Regions from separate parts of the Homo sapiens genome. Here region 2 is linked to region 1. Evidence: fine-mapped expression QTL. A gene starts in region 1. The other region holds a variant in brackets. All regions are shown on one strand. Distances are from middle to middle. Region 1 holds the start of OPA1 (OPA1 mitochondrial dynamin like GTPase). Region 2 overlaps OPA1 (OPA1 mitochondrial dynamin like GTPase).

What was found. PIP is the estimated chance that this variant, and not a neighbour inherited with it, causes the effect.
Region 2: its variant is fine-mapped to the expression of OPA1 in whole blood (TOPMed, PIP above 0.99).

Annotation. Positions count from the first base shown.
Region 1 is chr3:193,587,559-193,598,772 of GRCh38, reverse strand. It overlaps OPA1 (OPA1 mitochondrial dynamin like GTPase), which reads right to left and starts at 5,565. Exons shown (of 31, transcript NM_130837.3): 1 at 5,364-5,565. The coding sequence starts at 5,395. It also overlaps a transcript of ATP13A4 not described here. RefSeq lists enhancers at 5,007-5,086, 4,600-5,251, 5,687-5,736, 5,787-5,856, 5,252-5,903 and a silencer at 5,317-5,466.
Region 2 is chr3:193,690,690-193,701,903 of GRCh38, reverse strand. OPA1 (OPA1 mitochondrial dynamin like GTPase) reads right to left here. Exons shown (of 31, transcript NM_130837.3): 30 at 9,772-9,841; 31 at 4,093-7,298. The coding sequence ends at 9,777. Among named protein-coding and RNA genes, the nearest start is that of OPA1-AS1, 69 kb to the right of the region's middle. The variant T/A (reference allele first, on the strand shown) is at 4,431.

The DNA.
Region 1 (11,214 bases):
ATCGGTTAAAATGGCATAATAGCTGTATTAGAGAGTCGCCATCAATAATCAATAATCTGATATTTCTTTCTTCTCCTTACCTATTCACATCCTCCTTATCTATTCACCCACTTACCACCTTAGATTATGCGGTTCATCGTTTCAATAACTCTTTTGCAAACATTCTAAACTCCCTCGTCCTCTGACTTTTCTGTTTGACTTGTCCAACAAAATACAAACCCTACATGAGCCTTATTGTTTTTCTCTCTGCCTGTACCCAGGGAAATAAAGCACTACTGGAGAAAATCACACCCAACTGGAAGCACATCTCAACAGGGCCCTCAAAACTACTTAACAATCCTACTTCATCTCTCTTAGCAATTCATTCTTCCACTCTCTGCTAGAAGAGCTCTTCTAATCTCCCCTTATCTCTCTTGACCTCCCCAACTCTCAGTAGATGACCTTGCCCTCTACTTCACAGAGAATGGAAGCTATTAGAATGACACATGTTCAACTTCCTCATACAAAAACTGTTCACCTACTGTATCTCCACCAATCCTCTTCTTCCTCATGTAAAATTAAGCGATCTTTCTCCCATTAAAGGTGAATCACTGTTTGGAATTCTCTTTCCTCCTGCCCTTTGAGGAATCTAAGTCAAATCTCTCCTCCCATATTTATTTTTTATTTTTGAGACAGGGTATTTATTTATTTTTGAGACGAAGTCTTGCTCTGTTGCCCAACGTGGAGTGCAATGGCATTATCAGGGCTCACTGCAGCCCCACGTATCTGGGCTCAAGTGTGATCCTCCTGCCTCAGCTTCATAAATAGCTGGGACTAGAGGTGTGTGCCAGCATGCCCAGTTAATTTTTTTTGAATTTTAGTAGAGACAAGGTCTTGCTATGTTGCCTAGGCTGGTCTCAAACTCCTGAGCTCAAGCGACCCTCCCTTTCAAAGTGTTGGGATTACAGGTGTAAGCCACTGCACCTGGCTATGTCTCATCTTAAAAGGGGGAAAAAAAGTACCCCATTTCCCTGCTCTAGCTATTTTATTAAAATAAAAGCCAAACCATCCTGATTTCCATTTCTTTTTTTTTTTTTTTTTTTGAAACGGAGTCTTGCTCTGTCACCCAGGTTGGAGTGCAGTGGCTCGATCTCTGCTCACTGCAACCTCCGCCTCTGGGGCTCAAGCGATTCTCCTGCCTCAGCCTCCTGAGTAGCTGGGATTACAGGGACCTGCCACCACACCTGGCTACTTTTTGTATTTTTAGTAGAGACAGGGTTTCACCATGTTGGCCAGGCTGGTCTCGAACTCCTAACCTCAGGTGATCCGCCCACCTCGGCCTCCCAAAGTGCTGGGATTACAGGAGTGAGCCACTGTGCCCAGCCTGATTTCCGTTTCTATCACTTCAGCGAAACAGCTCTTACGGAGGGCACCATAGGCTTCCAATGGCCATTTTGCTCAATTCTGGTTTTATCTGACCTCTCAGCAATACCTGACAATGTTGACACCTCCTCATTGTTGAAAATTCCTCTCCCCTGGGCAGTCTCTAGCTTTACCTCTATCTCACTGGCCACTCATTTTCAGTATCCTCAACTACCCTTGGAAATGTTGGGAACTCATCAAGGCTTAGACCTAACCTACTTCTCACTCTCCCTAGGCAATCTCATCTACACCCATTTCCTCCATTACCATCCACATACCCATGTTTCTCAAAATTATGTCTAATACAGTTAAGTTCCCCCTTTTGGTCAGCCCCTCAATTTAGAGAGATTAACCAAAACTTTAGGCGTTGACACCACTCTCTGTCACCATCATAAAGACTTATTTGATCTCAGTGTGGAACTCACAAGTCGTCTTTAGTTTCAGTACGGAGTCTCACACGTCTTCTTTGGTGTTAATAGGGAATTCACAAGCCGCAGCCTGTACCAGTTAAATGATTCTTTATGTTCTTGCTGATCCACTTGGAGCGAGACCATTCAACTGTCAACGTACAGCTGCATACAAAACATTTAAGACTTGAGAGTATACAGAGCGCCAAGGGGACTATTATTGCGACTATTAAGAGGATACCATCAAAATGCTAAGGCGTACTCCTTGTTGTTATTCAAAAACAGCAATCAAAGAACAATAGAAAGTGTACAGAATTAAACATGTCTTTAAGAGTTTTCTTAAAAGTTCATGGAAATGAAAAGTTGCAATGCTCAGTGCTAGGTGTCCTCTAAAAGGAAAAATAAAAATAAAAAAATTAAGTTGCCGCCAAATGCAGTGGCGCACGCCTGTAATCCTGGCATTTTGGGAGGCCAAGGTGAGAGGATTACCTGAGCCCAGGAGTTCGAGGCCAGCCTGGACAACACGCCAAGATCCTGTGTGAAAGAAAAGAAAAGAAAAGAAAAGAAAAGAACAGAAAAGAAAAGAAAAGAAAAGAAAATTAAGAAAAGAAAAGAAAAGAAAAGAAAAGGAAAGGAAAGGAAAGGAAAGGAAAGGAAAAGAAAAGAAAAGTTGCGATGGCCAATATTAAAAAAATCAACAGTAAAACCATGAAATGAATTAAGGAAATTCCCCAGGACATAAAATGCAAAAAAAAAAAAAAAAAAAAGGTGAAAAACATAAGAGGAAAGTTAAGTGATGCAGAGCTGTGGTAATGTGGTATCCAAAGGGAGTGGGAGGATGGGGGCGGAATGCATCCCGTGGGATGAACAAAAGGATCTACTGGGATTCAGGAAGAAAGTACTGAAGCTTCTAGATGCAGTATGTTTTGTATCTTATCCTTTAAGATTATGTTAGGGTTGACTTACAATGTAAATAATTAGTACAGATACATATATAATTTAAAAATAAAAAAGTGTGCATATATACATAGGGTATATGTATGCTTTTCCTTTTAACAGACGACGAGTACAAATCTTACTTTGGAAATCACGGACATAACATATCAATCTAAGAGGACCACTATCCTCCTAAGAGATGTCTAGAAAGAAAAAGGACAGGAAAAATGAAAGGAAGATAATAAAAAATAAGAGAGAAAAACGTCTCAGAAATGAAGAAAGATAAAGGGAAAGGCCCACTGAGTGTGCCAAGTCAAATGAGTAGCAAAAGAAAACAAAACCAAACCCACACCTGGTCCAAGCCTTGAGAAATTTAGGATAAAGGATAAAGTCAAGACCCTAACAGATTCCATGAAGGGAAAAACAAGATAATCATGAAGATGAAAAAATCAGATTGTCATAAGAATTCTCAGCAGCAATAAACAATTACATTAGAAGAAAATGCAGCAATGCCTTTACAGTTCTAAAGGAAAAGAATTTTGAATATAGACTTCAATATTCAGTCAAAACTAAAAATCAAGTATGATGCAAAATAGGTTTCCCCCAGAAATCTACTCTCTTGTTCATTGACTATCACTTTTAATCAATATATCATTTCCTAATATGTAATTCTTTTAAAAATAATTTTACACAATTATTTATTGCACCCAAATGTTAGTATTGATCTTTTCACATGTCCATGAGCATGTATTTACATATGTATGCCCAAAGAAATGCTTATGCTCTCATCTGTTAGGGAGCAGGAATTTAACTGTATTCTTTCACAACATGCAAAGGAACTATAGCAAAAGAAAAACTGCAGAGCTTGGGGCTTCTGGCTTCCCACATCTCTACTTCTTTAGGTAGCTAAACTGTGCCATCACCAGGAGACATTTTTAAGCCATGACTCAATGGCATCCATGGTAACTTTAGAAATAATTTAGCCCAATGACAGCCAATTAAATAAATACCACTTATAAATCAGTTTGTTTTAAAACTCCGTCTTTGTAGTTCTTCTTATACATCTTAATTGCTCCAACAGAGAATGCTATCTTCTGCAGTCTTTTCTCTTTTTATTTAAAGAAAATCAGATATGTTTCCTCACTAAATATTGAGAAGTAGAAATGCAAGGGTTGTAAATAACTTACTTTAATACCAAGGGCTGTGAACTTACTCAAAGACTAAAATTCCATGAGATTAAAAATACCTATGCAATAATTCTAACTGACTAACACTGTTAACTATTGTTATCTCATCTAGTTCTGTATTTTGGACTCCAGTTAACCTATATAAAACAAATTGGGCCGGGCGCGGTGGCTCACGGTTGTAATCCCAGCACTTTGGGAAGTCGAGGAGGGTGGATCACATGAGGTCAGGAGTTCGAGACCAGCCTGGCCAAAATGGTGAAACCCCCTCTCTACTAAAAATACAAAAATTAGCTAGGCGTGCTGGCGCGTGCCTGTAATTCCAGCTACTCCGGAGGCGGAGACAGGAGAATTGCTTGAACCTGGGAGGCGGAGGTTGCAGTGAGCCGAGATAGCGCTACTGCACTCCAGCCTGGACGACAGAGCAAGACTCCGTCTCAAAACAAAACAAAAACAAACTAACGAATGCATTCCATTCCTTATAAACACGATAAATTATCTATACCACTTAAAAAGGTCTGGAAAAAATTCAAAACAACTGCTTAGAAGTTAATTCAGGAAAACCACGTTTTTCCAATTTTGCTTGATGCATCTTACTTCCTATCAAATGCCTGCAACAATGAGCTAAGCTTGAAGGTATCTAATGATACTAGAACAAAATTTCCTATAAAATCCAATTTAATCTCATTACAATGCATATAGTAACGCACAGAAATGAAAAGATTTCTATGATTTTCTATTTAGAATTAAACCACCCCAGGGCAACAATGATTGAGATTAGAAAGGTGGTGCCACGTTCACGACCTTGCATCAAAAAGTAAGTCTCCCTCCCGAAACACAGAAAAAAGCTGCTATTGAAAGGGCATCTCGAATCACCGTCTCTGACACCGTGTGCGTCATTGCTCTAGTTCTGACTTCTATCAGCGGGCTAGGGAAAGAGACGGACGCCCCTTTCCCCGATAGAAGAGCCCAGGTACCTGAAGATGCAATGTACACATGGCGTGGAAATGGAAGAAAAAGAAGACACCGAGAGTTAGGAGAAATGTGGAGAGAGGTGACTCATGGACAGAGCCAAACCTGGCAGGGAGAGGACAGAAAAAAGGCAAAAGAGGCAACCAGAGACAGACAGAACACTGAAGACACAAGGGTGTAAAGGGCAGAGACAAAAGGACAATAGAGACGGGCCAAGATTGAGAGGCGTCCAGAATTTTCGGGTTGGGTAGGGCCAGAGAAAAGGGCCAGTATTGAAGCCGGCTCCGAACGTAAGCCCAGCCAGGGCTCCTGTCATTCTGGGTCCTCAAGAACATCTGGGAATTCTCCAACTGCCGTCGGCCTGGCCTGAGAGTCACCTGCACATTTTTGGAGATAGAGATAAGACAGCCCCACTCTCAAGAGGCCCCAGAATTAACGGGGCCAGATTAGAGCCTGCACTTACCAGGCCACAGCGGCCCGACGTAGTCGCCACATCCCGCCGGCGGGGAGGTCACGCAGGCGCCGAGACGGCCACGCGGGAGCCCCCGTGTGAGCCCCAGCCCGGCTCCCGGTCCAGGAATGACCCAGGAAGTGGCCCTCAGCAGCAAGGGCACAGAGCCGCGGCCGAGGCCCTCCCAATGGCGCATGGACTTCCGCAAGAGCCTGACAGGCACCCGTACTCAGTCCGTCACGGAAACAACCACTTCACCCTTTCTAGGCGGGCAGCACGAACGGTCCGCGGAGGACCAGCGCATGCGCACAGTGCGTCGGGAACGGACTGGAGCAATCCATCGCCTCTCACGGGGCCCCGCCCTCTTGCTTCCGATTTGGAATTCGGAATTAGCCTTGCAGGTTAGAGATTTGGCCAGGGGAGGGAGCGAGAGTTGGGCGGGAACGGGAAGGGCTAAAGGCGTGGAATGAGAATTGATGAATGCTCACCGGGAGCCATGAATTTATTAAGAGTTGGATATTGAGGGAGCACGAAGGAAACTAGAGAGTGCAAGGTGAAATACAGTAATAGCGTACTACAAACTAATGCTTGCACATTTGCCTACCTTCTTTCTTGGGCATCTTTGTTTGAAAGCACTTTCACATCGTTAGGGCAATCATGGGAGGTGAGAAGCAGGACGAAGAGTCATGGATAGGCTAAGTCCCTTAGAATCTCTGAGGATCAGATGGGAAAGGGACTTAAATCAGTTAGGCCAGTAACGGGTTTGGAATAAGCTTGTGTGGTTTATAAAAGGCGTCAAAATGATTTGTTCAACTGTTTCTTCCGGATTTTAAGCCCACCAGTTTGTTGAAATGGTCCTCGTCAAGGCCTCCACCAGCTCCCTATTGTTTGTGGCCAGTGAGCCTGCCACAGCATTCAGTTCAGATGCCTAGTGCTGAGCACTCCTTCAACTACTTTTTCTTTTGGCTCTCTGGCCATCACATTCTCCTTTTTCCCTGGAACTGCTGCTCCCAGGCTTCTTTGATGGCTCCCCTCCCAAATTTCTCAATGTTGGACAGGCCCAGATCTCAGCCATCTTGAGCTCCTCTCCTCCATCACTTTAAATACTCCTTTCCCCTTCCAACACAAACCTTTTATGTTTTGTAAGGAAACCAGGGCCCGTAAAAGGGATGTGGCCTGTGAACGGTTATGAAGCCAATTTTTAGGGACTAAAATAAAAGGGTCCTGTGCATCCTCTTTACTTCAGGGACCTTTCACCTCCTCCCCACTACCCGCCCCCCACCCATGCCACACACATACACAAATACACAGAGCATAAAGACAATTCCTTTTCCCTTAATTGTCAGAATCATAAGTCTGGACCCATGCACTCACAATACCACCAAGAGTAGACCTAGCCATTGATAGTAAACTTCCCAAATGCAGGACTCTTAGAATTTTCTTTATTTATTGTGGTGACTGTTTCAATGGCAGGTCCAGAGAGCAATTTGCTGTACCAACCTGTGCAAACTGTAGATCTTCCTGGGATTGTAGGGTTGTACAAAAAGTGTCTTTGTAATCGTTACTTCCTTGTTATTTTAGAAAATAAAATAAGAGAAACCAAGAGACTTTAACAACAACAACAAAAAAGAAAAATTAGGGATAAAAGACTTTAACCATAAAAAAAGGAGAAACTAACCACCATCACCATTTATATATGGTTATCATATGTTTTATGAAGCCCTTGTTTTGCAGTTCTACTTCTAGGCATTTATCCTGTGGAATCATTCCCATGTATGCAAAGATGTATGCATGATGATGTTTATTTCTGCACTGTATGAAATGGGAAAAGATTGGAATCAGTATAAATGTCCATGTATAGGAACTAGACACATAAATTACATCCGTACTAGCCATGAAAACCTATGCTTTAGGTCTGTATGTCCTGATAAGGAATGATCTCCCATAGATACATAGTGTTGCCATGAAAAAAGGGCAAACTGTTGTATAATAAACTGCAACCATTGGACCAAATTCAGCCCACAGACCTGTTTTGTTTGGTTTAGACAGTGTTGGCCTATGCAGTGTTTTAAAAATAACACTACATTTGGGCTGGGCATGGCGGCTTATGCCTGTAATCCCAGCACTTTGGGAGGCCGAGGAAGGCAGATCACGAGGTCAGGAGTTTGAGACCAGCCTGGCCAATATGGTGAAACCCTGTCTCTACTAAAAATAAAAAAATTAGCCAGCTACTCGGAGGCTGAGGCAGAAAAATTGCTTGAACCCAGGAGGCAGAGGTTGCAGTGAGCTGAGATTGTGCCACTGCACTCCAGCCTGAGCGACAGATCGAGACTCCGTCTCAAAAACAAACAAGCAAAAAAATGCTACATTTGTTGCCAAATAAAAATCAACAAATTTCACATTTTAAAAAATCACATAAAAATATCAGGATGCCTAACAACATCAACCTTCAATTCTTATATACAAAAAATGTCTCGGAACCAGGAGCCAAGTAGTAGTTTTATCCTTCAGGCACTCATGTCCTCTCCGGTAGTTCACACTCCTTCATCTTTCTGAAATTGAACACATCAATTACTGTTTATCATGAAGCTTGTGCTTCTACTTTTCTTAGTAAAAATTAAGAGGAAAAACAACCACTACTTATATTGAAACTGCCTTGGCAAAATTATGACAAGAGGAACCTGACATAGTTGACTCCATCTTGCTTCTGACCTCCAAGCTGTCCTTGCTCATTCCTGGACTTAAGCCAAATGAACTTTGGGGAGGAATGTAGTTTATAGTTTAACTTGAAAGAAAGGATTATAATAGTCCCTTCCTAAAGCTAACTCCCTCGTTGCTCAGGAACCAAAAACCACCTTTGTAAGAAAGGCCAAGAGAACAGGATCATGAGAGGGGCCTGAACTGTGCTAAGACGTAGGTATGGTTTCTATAGTCCCTTACTGCTCAGGAATCAATGTGGCCAGAACTCACAAATCTTATGACTTCCCCAATTGCTCCTATAGATAACATCATTACTATAGAATCTAAGACTGCTTTTTTGCGGTATATTTCAGACTCACCCCATCGAGACTTATGACTCATGACTCAAGTGATCCTGTGGCCCCGCCCAGAGGTGGACTCAGCACACAAGGAATGTTTTCCTATTATTTCATCCCCAACCAATCAGCAGCATCCATTCCCTACCCCTTGCCCACTAAATTGTCCATAAAAACCTCTAACCTCAGAGCCTTCAGGAAGATTGATTTGAGTGACAACTCCAGTTCTCCTGCATAGGCTGGTCTTGAATCAGTTAAACTCTTTTTCTACTGCGATGCCCTGGTCTCAGTGAAATGATTTTGTCTGTGCAGTGAGCAGGAAGAACCTGCTGGATGATTACAATATGAAAAGTGAGAGAAAATGAAGGACTGAGAGGGTCAGCCATTTCCAAAACAATGAGAAAGAGCTTTTTTTTTTTTTTTTTTTGGCAAAAGAACACAAGTATGCAAGTAGGCAAGTAAAATTATATGAATAAATTATATGAATACAATTTAATATGACATTATACAACAGACATACTTGCATTACTCATTTATGTTACATGCCTAACCCACGAAAATATTTGAGTTGATAAGCCCTAGTGAAGGGCAGAGTCAAGGAAGGACTTGAAGTTAGTGGGTCATGAGTGGGAGGGAGGCTTACATTTATTGTAAACCCTTTTATACTCTGAACTTGTGTATTAATTACTTGTAAAAACATGTTAAAAATATTTTTCTGATCCAGAAGTCATGAAATAATTTTACTACTTTAAACTAAATTTTCCAGTTCAGCTGGGAATTGAGCAATTCACCAGGTAAAACTCTAAATATTTACCTTAGCAGGAAAAGGGACCCTTTTCAGAATTATCCAACGAATCAGAAATTTTCAGAAAGGAAGGTAATGAGAGATGTTAATGGAAATGGAAATGTTTAAAATTGATTTCATAAGTTTTATATTTAAATTTATACATAAAAGCTTTTGCAAAGTTCTTCTTGGGAGATCTCCAAGTTCCTTAACACTACTCTTTGTGGTTTCCTGGAGAAGCCAATAATTAGCTGAAGTCATACATGTTTGCACCATCATCATTATCAAACTCTCCCCAGCCCTCAGAAAAGCATGTTATAATCCTTATTAACAAACATTTACAGTCACTTCCTATGAACCCTAGTCGAGGATATAAATACATATATATACACACACAAATTATATACACACACACACACACATATATATATATTTGGTTTTTGTTTGTTTGTTTGTTTGTTTTGAGACAGAGTCTCACTTTGTCGCCCAGGCTGGAGCGCAGTGGCACAATCTCGGCTCACTGTAACCTCCACCTCCCAGGTTTAAGTGATTCTCCTGCCTCAGTCTCCTGAGTAGCTGGGATTACAGGTGCATGCCACCATGCCTGGCTAAGTTTTTGTATTTTAGTAGAGACGGGGTTTCACCATTTTGGCCAGGCTGGTTTCAAACTCCTGACCTCAAGTAATCTGCCTGCCTCAACCTTCCAAAGTGCTAGGATTACAGGCATCAGCCACCGTGCCAGGCCTGAGGATATATTTTTTTAAAAAGAGTAAACCACAGTTCCCACCCTCAACTAACCATGGTTTGGTTAGGAAGACAGACATACATAAAAGGTAAACATTAATGTGAGGTAGTACAAGCTGAGGACCAAGTAATGGGTAGCAACAGTTACTACCCACAGAGGCAGACTATAGTGTCATAAAGTGGGCTCAAAAAAGATAATCCTGGAGAAACAGAAAAGGATGAATTTGTAAAGAGGGAAACTGAGGGTCAGGAAGACTGGATAGGGGGCTGTTGAGAAAGTCAAGTGTGAGGGCCCTTAACCAAAGCCTGGTAATGGGAAGAAGTGAGAGATTCTTTGAAAGGATACTTCGGAGTATTTAAAACAATGAAAAGCTAAATGAAGAAACTAGGAAGAGGAATCAAAAGATAATGGGGTTGAAGCCAAAGTCAATTGACATTATTAGTAACAGTCACAAATATAGAAAAGCTGATTACAAGGGGATGATAATGCTGGCTTTGGAATGATGATTGGTGCTGAAGTGTGAATGGGTTATTCAGGTGGCAGTTAGAAATCAAGCTTTGGAGTTCCACAGGGAGATGGGGCTTGCAATACAGATTCGAGAGTTGTCTTTATAAAGGTGAAGCTTTGGGTCACATTAACCTTTGTGAAACTGTGCAAGAACTTGAAATTGTTTGTTAATGATTAAATCCACATTATTTTATAATGTTTGTTTATTTATTTATTTTGAGACAGCGTCTTGCTCTGTTTCCCAGGCTAGAGTGCAGTGGTGTGATCATGGCTCACTGCAGCCTCGAACTCCTGGGCTCAAGTGGTCTGCCCTTTTCAGCCTCTTAAGTAGATGGGACGGCAGACATATATCACCATGCCTGGCTAATTTTTAAATATATATATATATTTTCAGACACTGGGTCTCCTATGTTGCCCAGACTTGTCTTGAACTCCTGGGCTCCAGAGATCCTCTTGCCTCAGCCTCCCAAAGTGCTGGGATTATGGGTTTAAGCCATATTTTTGGGATTATGGCATAACCCATAGTTTTTACAATTTTTATACTTTTTGTATATTATGGTTTATATTTTTAAGACTAAATATATTACATTCAGTGCAATAATGCAAGAACAAGAAATGTAAGGCATAACATTTTCAGCTGATGTGACTGATTACATAGAAAATCCTAAGAAATTAATAAAAAGCAAACACCAGAAATAGTGAATTAAGGAGGGCCTCAGAGTACAAACCCAATGTAAGCAAATTGTGTTTCTATATACTTGCAAAAACACCTGTGCAGATATCAGATCTTAA
Region 2 (11,214 bases), 100 kb before region 1:
TGGGGAGAGCATCCAGGTCCAAATGCCTCACTCCACCAACAGGATAAGAAAACAATGCTTTTGACGCGAACAAAATTACACTCTCAGAATCTTGATTCAGCTATGACCAGAGCAATGAGTATAATTAGCAAGAATGTGAATGTCTCAGATGTTTTGAGAAATCTGAATGTATGAAAGTGGGAGTGGCTTTGTGATGGTACCAACAGCCTATGAAATGGCAGAGGCAGCAAATGGCAGGCATGTTCAATTAAGCATTCATATTAGAGATGTTCTGATACGGGTAAAGATAACTCATACAGATTTTGGCATGAAAATCTGTCTTTCGGTCCTAATAGTCTTGGGAAACCAGACATATCTCAAGGCAAGAAAATTAAAGAATGTACATGAGATACCTGGAATATAAGTTTAGTAGAAATTTTAAAGAATTCTGCTAATAGCTTTTCCTTCAAAATAATTTTATTGGGGGTGGGGCGCAGAAAGACACTCAAAAGTAGTAATTTGGGCCAGGCTAGGTGGCTCACGCTTATAATCCCAGCACTCCGGAAGGCTGAGGTAGGAGGCTTGCCTGAACTCAGAATTTTGAGATCAGTTTGGCAACATATTGAGATCTCATCTCTACTAAAAATTAAAAAAAAGATTAGCTAGGCATGGTGGTGTGTCCCTGTAGTCCCACCTACTCGAGAGGTTGAGGTGGGAGGATCACTTGAGCCCAGGAGGTCGAGGTTGCAGTGAGCTGTGATTGTGTCACTGCACTCCAGCATGAGGGACAGTGAGAAACCCTGTCTCAAAAAAAAAAAAAATAGTAATTTGGAAAAAGAAAATATTCAATCAAGTTTTTAAAAACTGAGGAAAGAGCAATTCCATATTTTAATACTTGGACTAACTAAAAAAGATTGACAGAATCTGCACAGGATAAAATGAGAGAATTAACATTATTAACATGTTGAGAATTGCAAAGCACTTGTTTTTTACACCTAAAACTTAAGGCCTGGCGTTAACATGAAATTAGAACCTACTGAATCTCATCTTCTTGTCCACTAAGGTCTCACAGGCAGCCACACATCTCTGCTGATAGTTCCATTCTTGCAATGCAACAATAGCCTCATGTAATTAGTAAAGACTATCATAGGCCATTTTTGTTATGAGTTAGGTCATTTTGTACTTTCTAGGTATATCATGTGCCCTAATGTGCTCCTAATATCATAAATGTTTACTTTCCGAAAAGTATTTCTGAAAGGGAGCATATTTTGGAAAGTGCATAGGCTTGTAATCATACTTGTTTTCAAGTTTCAACTTTGCTATTCAACTAGAATAACCTTGTGCAAAACCTGAGCTGATTTTCTCATCTATAAAATGGAAACAATACTTTCTGTGATAATGGGTGCAAAACACAAGGTATACTGGTTTCTTTGCTCTGGATTCAAGTTTTCTTCTTAGTTTCAAAATTTTAAAGGGAAACCAAAAATGTTTCATGGGACCAATCCTTGGCAAGATAGGATATTGACCGTTCAAAAAGAATTCAGTGGAGTTTCTCCATGGATCCCAAAATGCTGCTGGCCAGTTTTAGTCTACTTTGTAGTGTTCTGAGTCCTGCTCAGACCTTTATAATAGGCCCTTAGTTAGGATGTGTTAATATTTCTGGAATGGCTGCAAACTTACACATATCTCTCTGCATCCTTCCTCTCAACACACATCAGGCACCTCCTGCTACTGTGGTGTTGCTCCCGGCAGCGGGGAGGCAGGCATGTTATTGTCACTGGGTGTGTACTGTGTCCTTGAGGTGATTTCTGATTTTTTTACTATATATATATATGAATTGATTGTAGAAAAAAATTATATACATTAGGTATGCAAGGGGAGTGGCTGTGTACCACCTGGAGCATTATGGCACATGTGGGAATTCTTAAACCCTCTAGACAAATATATTTCTTAAAATGAGAAATAAGTAAGCATTGTATTTTCTTAGTGACGCAAACTAACACAGAAAGCTGTTTCTGCGTTAAGATGTATGGAAAGAGAGATTAATAACAAAAATAGAACACAAACTAAAGGAGCAGAAAAATGGTTAGGTTCATTCCTTCAGTTGAGAGGGAAATTAATTTCAGCATTTCCTGGCAGCTGAAGCAAAGAAAATGGTAAAGTCTTGAGTTCTCATTGTCACAAGGAGAGCAGTACATACATGTGTCTGGAGGGGAAACCGCTGGTACTATCTAGTAATCCTTAATGAATTTCAGTGATAATCAAGACATGTCATTAGGTTAGACTTCTGCAAAAGAGACTGTGTATTTTCTTCAAATAGATGTGTCATAAGGTCTTGCCTGTGAAGCCAAGGACGTAATATCAAAGAGGTAGGTAAGTAGCAGCCCAGGCAGTATTGCTTTCTGATGATTTGGCCTAATCTCAGATGAAGTTTACCAAAGCAAAAAAAGGAGGTTAACCTATTCCCTACATATTCTCTCACAAATATCAGAGGTCTCAAGAGCTTTTGGAAAGTATTAGGTCACATAAACCATGAGCATATTTTCTGACAAATGGATAAAATTCTAACTTCCGTATTGTTGCTCTGTGATTTAATAACTACAAGAGTAAGCAGCAGAATGAGTATTCTGTTCTGAACATTAAAGAGTGTAACTTATATTCTTAATACAGCCGTAAGACATATCTCTGTGGGGGGCTGCTGGCAGTATCACTGCACTGTGACTAGATCTTCAGGGGTGCCTCTGGCCTAGTTTTTTCAAAAACAGATCTCTGAATTTCCCAAATACTTGGAAAGGAACAGTTTACACCTGGGTTAATGAATTAAAAGTACTAACAGCAGGAACAAGAATTTTTTATCACAAAGAGTAACAATCACGCCTGTGATCCCAGCACTTTGGGAGGCCGAGGCGGGTGGATCACGAGGTCAGGAGATTGAGACCATCCTGGCTAACATGGGGAAACCCCATCTCTACTAAAAATACAAAAAATTAGCCAGGCATGGTGGCAGGTGCCTGTAGTCCCAGCTACTCGGGAGGCTGAGGCAGGAGAATGGCCTGAACCCGGGAGGTGGAGCTTGCAGTGAGCTGAGATCGCGCCACTGCACTCCAGCCTGGGCGACAGAGCAAGACTCCAACTCAAAAAAAAAAAAAAAAAAAAAAAAAGATTTTCATTTAACAGCATTTATAAGTAGTATTTACCTCCTTGTCAGTGACTTGGCCACAAATGCACCTTAACGCGGCTTCTGCAGAATATGTACGTAACTCACGAGAAGTCTTGGAGAGGAATCACATACATACTCTCAATTTTCAAGCTCAATTCTGTCATTTTAGGATATAAATTTAAACAAATGCCTTATGATATAGGTTTTTCCTACCCTTAGTTTTAGAAGCTGTCTTCTTCCAGCTAGAGATCACCCATATTTAAGCCTTCCTGATACTGTCTCCTGGTTTTGAACCTTTAACAATTTTTGTAGTATTTGTTTGAACACTTAAGTTTTCTACACTTATTAACTGGGTCTAATATGTGCAGGACATGATTGTTTTAGTTATCACAAATCGGGTATGTGGTTATTTTAAGACGTACTTCATAATTAAATACATCTGTATTATCTATAGGCACATGGTAGCTATTTCAATTTGATAAATATATTAATTCTTCAATCAGACATGCTAAAAAAATTAATTGCTCTATTAAATCTTCAGTAACTAAATTCTTCAAACGTTTTGATACACGAAGATTCTGAACTTGAATTACACAAGGATGAAAACCTAGTTTAAAATAAAGTATGGGGCCTCACACTGAGTCTGTTAGCACTGATAAAGAAAACCAATGCTAACACGATTGAAACATGTTCTTGCCTCTGCATCTTCTGAAGGAATTAAGAAGGCACACCTATACGCTACCTAACTTGACATATCCAATGATCGACAATTAGTAGGTATCATTTATGAGCAAAGTTCTGGAGGAATAACAAAGTGAGTAACAGGAGTTTATAATCAGATGGTAGATGAAATTAAAGTCTCTTCCAGTTCTAAAGCTTAGTTATAACTTCTTAGTAAGCCTCATATGAACATGTTGGCAGCATTAATGAAAATGACAGCCTTGGCAGCAAAGTGAAATTAGAAAACCTTTTTTATATATTTTACCAAGGAAAATAACAAAATGTTTTGACAAGTACCACGATGTGAAAAAAAGCACCGGTTGACCATGGAGTACAACTGTGAAATGCAAGGCATGTGAAATTCAAGCATTCAGAGAAAAGCCACACTGAGAGCTTGTTAGACCATGAATCTGGTTATACTATGGGGTCAAATAATGACCCTAGGTATACAGGTTTCTCTTTCCCTCGTTAAAACAGAAAAAAATTTAAAAGATGCTCTCCAATAATAGAATTATAATGTGATTTAAATATTTTTTAATTACTCATCTACACAAATGACCTTTGATCAAGC[T/A]CAGGCAAAATATAAGTTGCAATAATATCTACACGTAATGTGAAGGTTTTAAAAAAATAATACAAAGTTCATTCACAGTGCACAAGTGAAAACAAGGTAAGTTTCAAATATCTCAACAACATATAGCCATGATCATTCAAAAGGTAAGCATATTTTAAAGCACATTTCCATACTGCTAGAGCTATAACATAGACCAGCTTAGAGAACTGAGAGAAAAACCATTACTTTGATCCCCTTTATTGGAAAGCAAAAATACCAGATTTCTTTCCTCAGATACATACATCTAGAATAAATAAATACAAAATTATTAACTAAAGATTTTATCTTTTAAACCTATACTCTGACTCTCATCCTATGTCAAATTCCCACATTGTGAGGCTGGGAAGCACCACTCTCTGCCATGTTCCCTACTTATTTTTATATCATTCATTTGCATTTGGAGGCTGAATAATTTGCAGAAAGAAGTCTGCGGAAAAAACTGTAGAAAATGGGAATACAAAGAGGGCAATATCATAAACTACTAGAAAGGTTGACTGTTCCACCCGCAACTATAGCACAGTGGGTTAAACGGGGAAGCTGCAAGGGCCACTTATTTCGTGCTGTGCACTGCCTAGGTACACTGATTTTTAAAATTGAAGTCCTAGCCAAATTAAGTTTGGATATCATCTATTTACAGTTGTTCAGTCTTCCATACAGAGCTTTGTCCACTCCACTCTTTGCAAATTCTGACATAAAAACAAATGATTCTGTGGCTAGTTCGAATTTAACTTCTGTATATTTAGTATCTTTTTGTTTAAATTAGAATCATTTCTGACTTTTGAACTACAGACACAAGACACAGGGTTTACTCTTGAGACTGAATTTTATTTTCTTTCAATAACATCTGCAGTTGATAAATACCTAGCTTTCAAGGAAAAATAAAGCATGCTTAGGATGAGATCAGCTAAAAAGAAGAAAAAAAAACCCATGAAAGAAGCCACATTACTGTGGGGCATGGAGAGGGCGTCAGGACTCTCATGTGGGACTTTTAGTAATATTAATTGTTATCATCTATTCACATACGTTACAATACTGATCTCCTCAAAGAAATGAAGATCTCCCTCCATCTCTTTTTAAAACTTATACAAAGGGATGTGATAACAGTAGTGACTAATATTAGCCTTTTCCTTGGGAGAAATCTGTGGAAATACAGCTGAAGGTCTTTCTTTCTATAGTTGACAGAAGTAAATAAATATGGTCCTGTTTTATTCTTTAGAAATAGATGTGTAGTTGTAATTGTTATGCTTTACAACTGCAAAAATATTCATTAACATGCATTAACCTGTAAGCACTGGTTAGAGGGGTGTACCCAGTAAGGTCATCTCCTAATCTGTGTATAGAACATAATAGAGCTCTCCTCCCTTTCTATTCACTCCTGTCCCTAGACCTAAAAGAAATAAAAAAAGTTCCTGACTATGCATCTACCAGCGCATCTGTGCTGCTTAAGGCTGGACCTACTTTTCTTATCAAACAGTATAAAACAAACATACATTGAATTCCTGGTTTCGGAAGTATTTTTTCATATCCTCAACCGAGCATACCAAGTGTTACATCTTGAGGGATCACAACGAAGCATGCATTGATGTAAAACAATAAAATGGGGAGTAGCAATGGGGCTGTTACCAAAAAGCAACTCCAAGAAAATAAGATTTAGCAAACTGTAAAATCAAAAACATCACACAATGGACACTTTTATTAACAAAGTAAAGGCTTAGTGAAAAGGCAGCAAATGAGATAGACATTTTAAGTAAAGAAAGCATTTCTTTGCTTGAATGTCCTTTAGCCAATTAAAAAATATTTATTTAAAACACATGAAAATGTTGTGAAGGTAGTATTGTAATTAAATTGCAATAAATTGAACTAAATTTTTCTTTATTCAGCTGAGAGGGGGATGGTCAACATTACTTTAATTGTTGAAATAATTTCTATTTAAAATAGTCTTATGAAAGAAAGCCTTTTTCTGATACCTAGTTGAAATGTTTGATAATATTCTAAATGAAATTAGTCAATTGATTATCCTTAATCTTCCTCATCCTGTGTCATAATCCGGTGGCTCTGTCAACAGGAGAAAAACCACTATTAACAGAAAGCCTAACGTAAGTATACAACATCTAAAATAAATCAATTTCAAATGGATATAGAGAGTGAGAAAACAGCAACTGAATCAAATAGGTAAGCTGGTACTGACTTGGCTTCCAAGGCAAATTTCTTCGCTGGCTATGAAGGGTTGAAATTTCTTTCACTGAACGTTACAATCCAAATTAACCTGTTTTAAGGGTTCTTCTGTTACCCATTTTTCTTTCATGTGGTGAATATAAACTGAATTATCATGGTCAAATAGTTTCTGGGAATAGAATACTACAGACACATACAATGATTTAGCAGGCTACTGTGATTTTATATACAATTGATAACTTTAAACAATTGCTATATAAGTTTTATTTCAAAACACCTAGCATTGTATTTCTGGAAAAGAAACTGAACATTGAGCAACCTCAGTTAATCCATTAAACGAGTGCCACCACAAATAAGACAACAAACAGAGAACAAGTTTCTTATCTTCAAGGACTGAACCTAATGGCCATACCAATTATATTATTCCGATTTGTCACTTTAGTACAACAAAATAGGATGTTAATCCATTACCACTGTTCTTCCATTCGAGAGGCAGCTGATGGTTAAAGCGCCCGTAACATACATCGATTATTTTTATCCCATGACTTTATTGTATGTTTAGAAAGGTGGAACAGCAGAAGAAAAAGAGGCTGGACAAAAGACGTTGATGTTTTTGTTCTTCAGATGTATGCAGAGCTGATTATGAGTACGATTCTGTAAAAATAAACCCATTTAACAAACTGAGGTCAGGGGAGATAAATGCAAAATTTCTAAACAAAGTTGATGACTGCATGATCACAACAATGTTGAAGCCTAACCGCTTACCTTTGCTAGTTTTACTAAACTTATATAGTCTATCACCGACCTAACAATATTGGCATAATTTTTTTATCAAACATAAGTTAAAAGCATATACTAAAATTAATTGAAGAAGAATCTGTGTATGACTGTATAGCATATAAACACCTTCAGCAAATATTAGAATAACAATTAATTAGGAATCCTATGTGTTAAAACTATACTTGAGAAAGTATTCCTTAGGGTCCTTGGTAACTTTGATAAAATGGTCAGAATGAAGCAAGGTTACCATTCTGCCAGATTTATTCTTTTAAATGCATCTGCAGGGTACAAAACAGATCATCTGTCCAGATCACAAGATACTTTGTAAAAGTTCACAGAGTCTTAAGTCACAAGGGTTGAAAAGGGTCTTAGAGACTAGACAGGTAGCAGCAACAGCAACTCTGGATGTCACACTGATCAGCTGAGGGGAGAGACACCATTATGTAAAACACTGGCTGGCTTTCAGCTTCCTCATTTTGTTAAAAAAACAGAAATACAGCTTGTCTTTTTAACGGGGCTTCCGGGGCTTTCATCAATTTTTCCCCGCAAAGCACACACAGGTCAGTAAATAGAACTATGATGTAAGCTCTGGTGCTAAAGGGGAGATCAAGGAGGCGCTACAGATGTTTATTTCTAATAGTAAGTATTCACGGTAACCACCATGATTAGGGTGATATTGTAACACTTAATGGTTTTAAAATAAAATATTCATACACAAAAGACATAGAAAACATTTATGAACACGGACACTTATAAAACACAAAAATTATGTTTAGCTTGTGTTAAAGATGATTATGTATTTTTGTATATTTCCATATATCTGTCTTCACTTTTTTTTTGAGACAAGAGTCTCGCTCTGTCGCCCAGGCTGGAGTGCAGTGGCACGATTTCTGCTTACTGCAACCACTACCTTCCAGGTTCAAGTGATTCTCCTGACTCAGGCTCCCGAGTAGCTGGGATTACAGGCATGTGCCAGCACACCTGGGCAATTTTTGTATTTTTATTAGAGACGGGGTTTCACCATGTTGGTCAGGCTGGTCTCCAACTCCTGACCTCAAGTGATCCGCCCGCCTTGGTCTCCCTAAGTGCTGGGATTACAGGAGTGAGCCACCGCACTGGCCTGTCTTAACTTACTAAAGAAACAAATGAAATAAAGTTACAAAGCTTTATTTTCAAGTTTTCTAGGTCTTGTTTCTCTCCTCCTTTGCTGGCACACTGTTCCGAATGATGTACCATGGAAGTTGTACTTCCCTTTCCACCCTGCTTTCTCAAATACATTTTCCTGACAGGAAAGTAGGTAGTTTGGTTTAAGAGCCTTTTCTGAACTGACCTGAACCGAGCGTAGCCAGGGAGGGAACCTTTTACATTTCTACTCCTTCTAGTTCTGAGCCTGCTGCAGGCTGTCTGTAGGGTAAGGGTCACAGACAAAAGTGACAAAATATTTGAAGTGATAATGACTTAACTACAGTATTTTTCTTTCCTCAACTTCTTTTATAAAAGCAAATGCCAGCCTGGACAACGGGGTGAAACCCCATCTCTACAAAAAATTAAAGAAATTAGCTGGGCATGGTGGCATGAGCCTGTGGCCCCAGTTCCTTGAGAGGCTGATGTGGGAGGACTGCTTGAGCCCAGGAGGTTGAGGCTGCAGTGAACAGTGATTGCACTACTGCACTCCAGCCTGGGTGGCAGAGCGAGGTCTCCTCTCAAGCAAGTGACTTACTGATTAAAATTCTTCAGCAACAATTAATTGATTATGCTACTAAGGAAAAGTCCTTAAATATGTATTTTATTAGGAACATGCCTCTAATGCCAGAAAGCAGAATCAGACAAGAAAGTAAATTCAAGGAGTACTAAATTCTAAGGCTATATAAATTAAGTAGGAAAAACACTTATCTAAATGTTTTTAAACAAAAGAGATAAGGATTAAGAACAATTATTAAAATTTTAATTAAGTCAAACAGAAAACTTTCTAAGTTAAATATTTAACATACACATCATTATTGATAGACTATAGGCAAGAAGAATAAAGTAATGTCAACTACAGCTCAATTCTTTACACCTAGAAAATGAGTCACCTGCATATTATACAATATCTTAGCTCTGTGTTCACCTTTGTTCTATTCAAAATGAGTTCTAGAGGATATTCTTAATTCAGCCAGAAGGCAATCAAGTTATTCAAAGCAACGTTATACAAATGAAATTCGGAAGCTAGTTTCAGAGATTCATGCCATTGAAATTACAGCATAAGTGACAAGCAGGATGTAAATGAAGCAGAATGATAAACTATTAAGAAAAGTGTAATTTTGTATTTAGTCAGCACCAATACAGTTAGAGAATTTTTACTCACTTAATTTATTTCTCCTGATGAAGAGCTTCAATGAAAGCATCAAGTTTTTCTTGAATTTCTCTAACTTTCTCTGTGGAGATAAAAATAAAGAAAAACATTTATTTTTCAAAGGTATCACAAATCAGGAGGTAATTATTTACTAAATGGTTGGTATACTTAACTATTTGCGGGAAAAAGAAAAATATGAGTCTCACCATACCACCTTTTACCCAAATAAAGTCCAGATGGATTATAGTAGTAGGTCTCAGACATTTTTTGGAAGTGGGAGGAGAGACTGACTGACCCCTTTGAGGATCTAACAAAAACTCTGGACTCTTAACATGGAAAAAAGCATGTATTAAGTACATGTACAATTATGTAGAGAATTTTAAGGAATTCTCAGATTCTCTGAAGCCCAATTAAGAACCCACAGTTACTAATGTCTGGATCATAGGCAAATATAAAACAATGAAACCATTTTAAAAAACTAAAAGAAAATAGAGGTGGCCTTAGACTGGGAAATGACTTTTTAAATATAAAGTAGTAAGAGTTACAAAGGAAAAGATCAATCAATATGGCCATATTGAAATGTATACTTTTATTTATATGTCATAAAATTAAAAGACAAAGGAAGCTGTGGGAGATGCTTGCAACAAACATGAGAAGTGCAATGGTGCTATAAAAATACATACAAAAAAGTACTTTGCCAGCTATAAATAAGTTTAAAAATACCAGAGCCACTAGAGGTAGATTTACATTATTTATTTTAGGTTTTCATGTTTATAGACTTCCAAATGAAATATATACTCTCTGAAATGTAGATTTCCTCCACAAATGTGAACTGCTCATAGTACATGCCAATCCCCTCTTAAAATTGGAAAAGTCATGATCTATACTACTTCACATGCACCTCCTACTTTATTTTATATTCTGAGATGGGGGTCCTACTCTGTCGCCCAGGTTGGCGTGCAGTGGTGTTGGCAGGGCTTACTGCAGCCTCAACCTCCTGAGCTCAGGTGATCCTCCCGCCTTGGCCTCCCACGTAGCTAAGACCACAGGCACGTGCCACCACGCCTGGCTAAGTTTTTATTTTTAATTTTTTTGTGGAGATAGGATCTCACTTTGTTGCCCAGGCTGGTCCTGAACACCTGGGCTCAAGTGATCCTCCTGCCTTGGCCTCCCAAAGTCCTGGGATTACAGGTGTGAGCCACTGTGCCTGGCCTCCTATTTTAAAACACAGGTTATAGTAAGCATGATAAATATTTTTGTTCTTTTAAGGTAATTTAACATATTAGTGGAAATGATCAATTAAGGTGGGTTGGCTGGTTCAAAGTGAGTGACCTAGAGGCAAAACTGGCAAGCATTCTACTTTCACTATGTAGGAAAACCATGTAAGATGCATTTAATATTTGACATTTATATCTTTTATATTTAAAAGTAAATAATCTGCAATTGAAGATACAT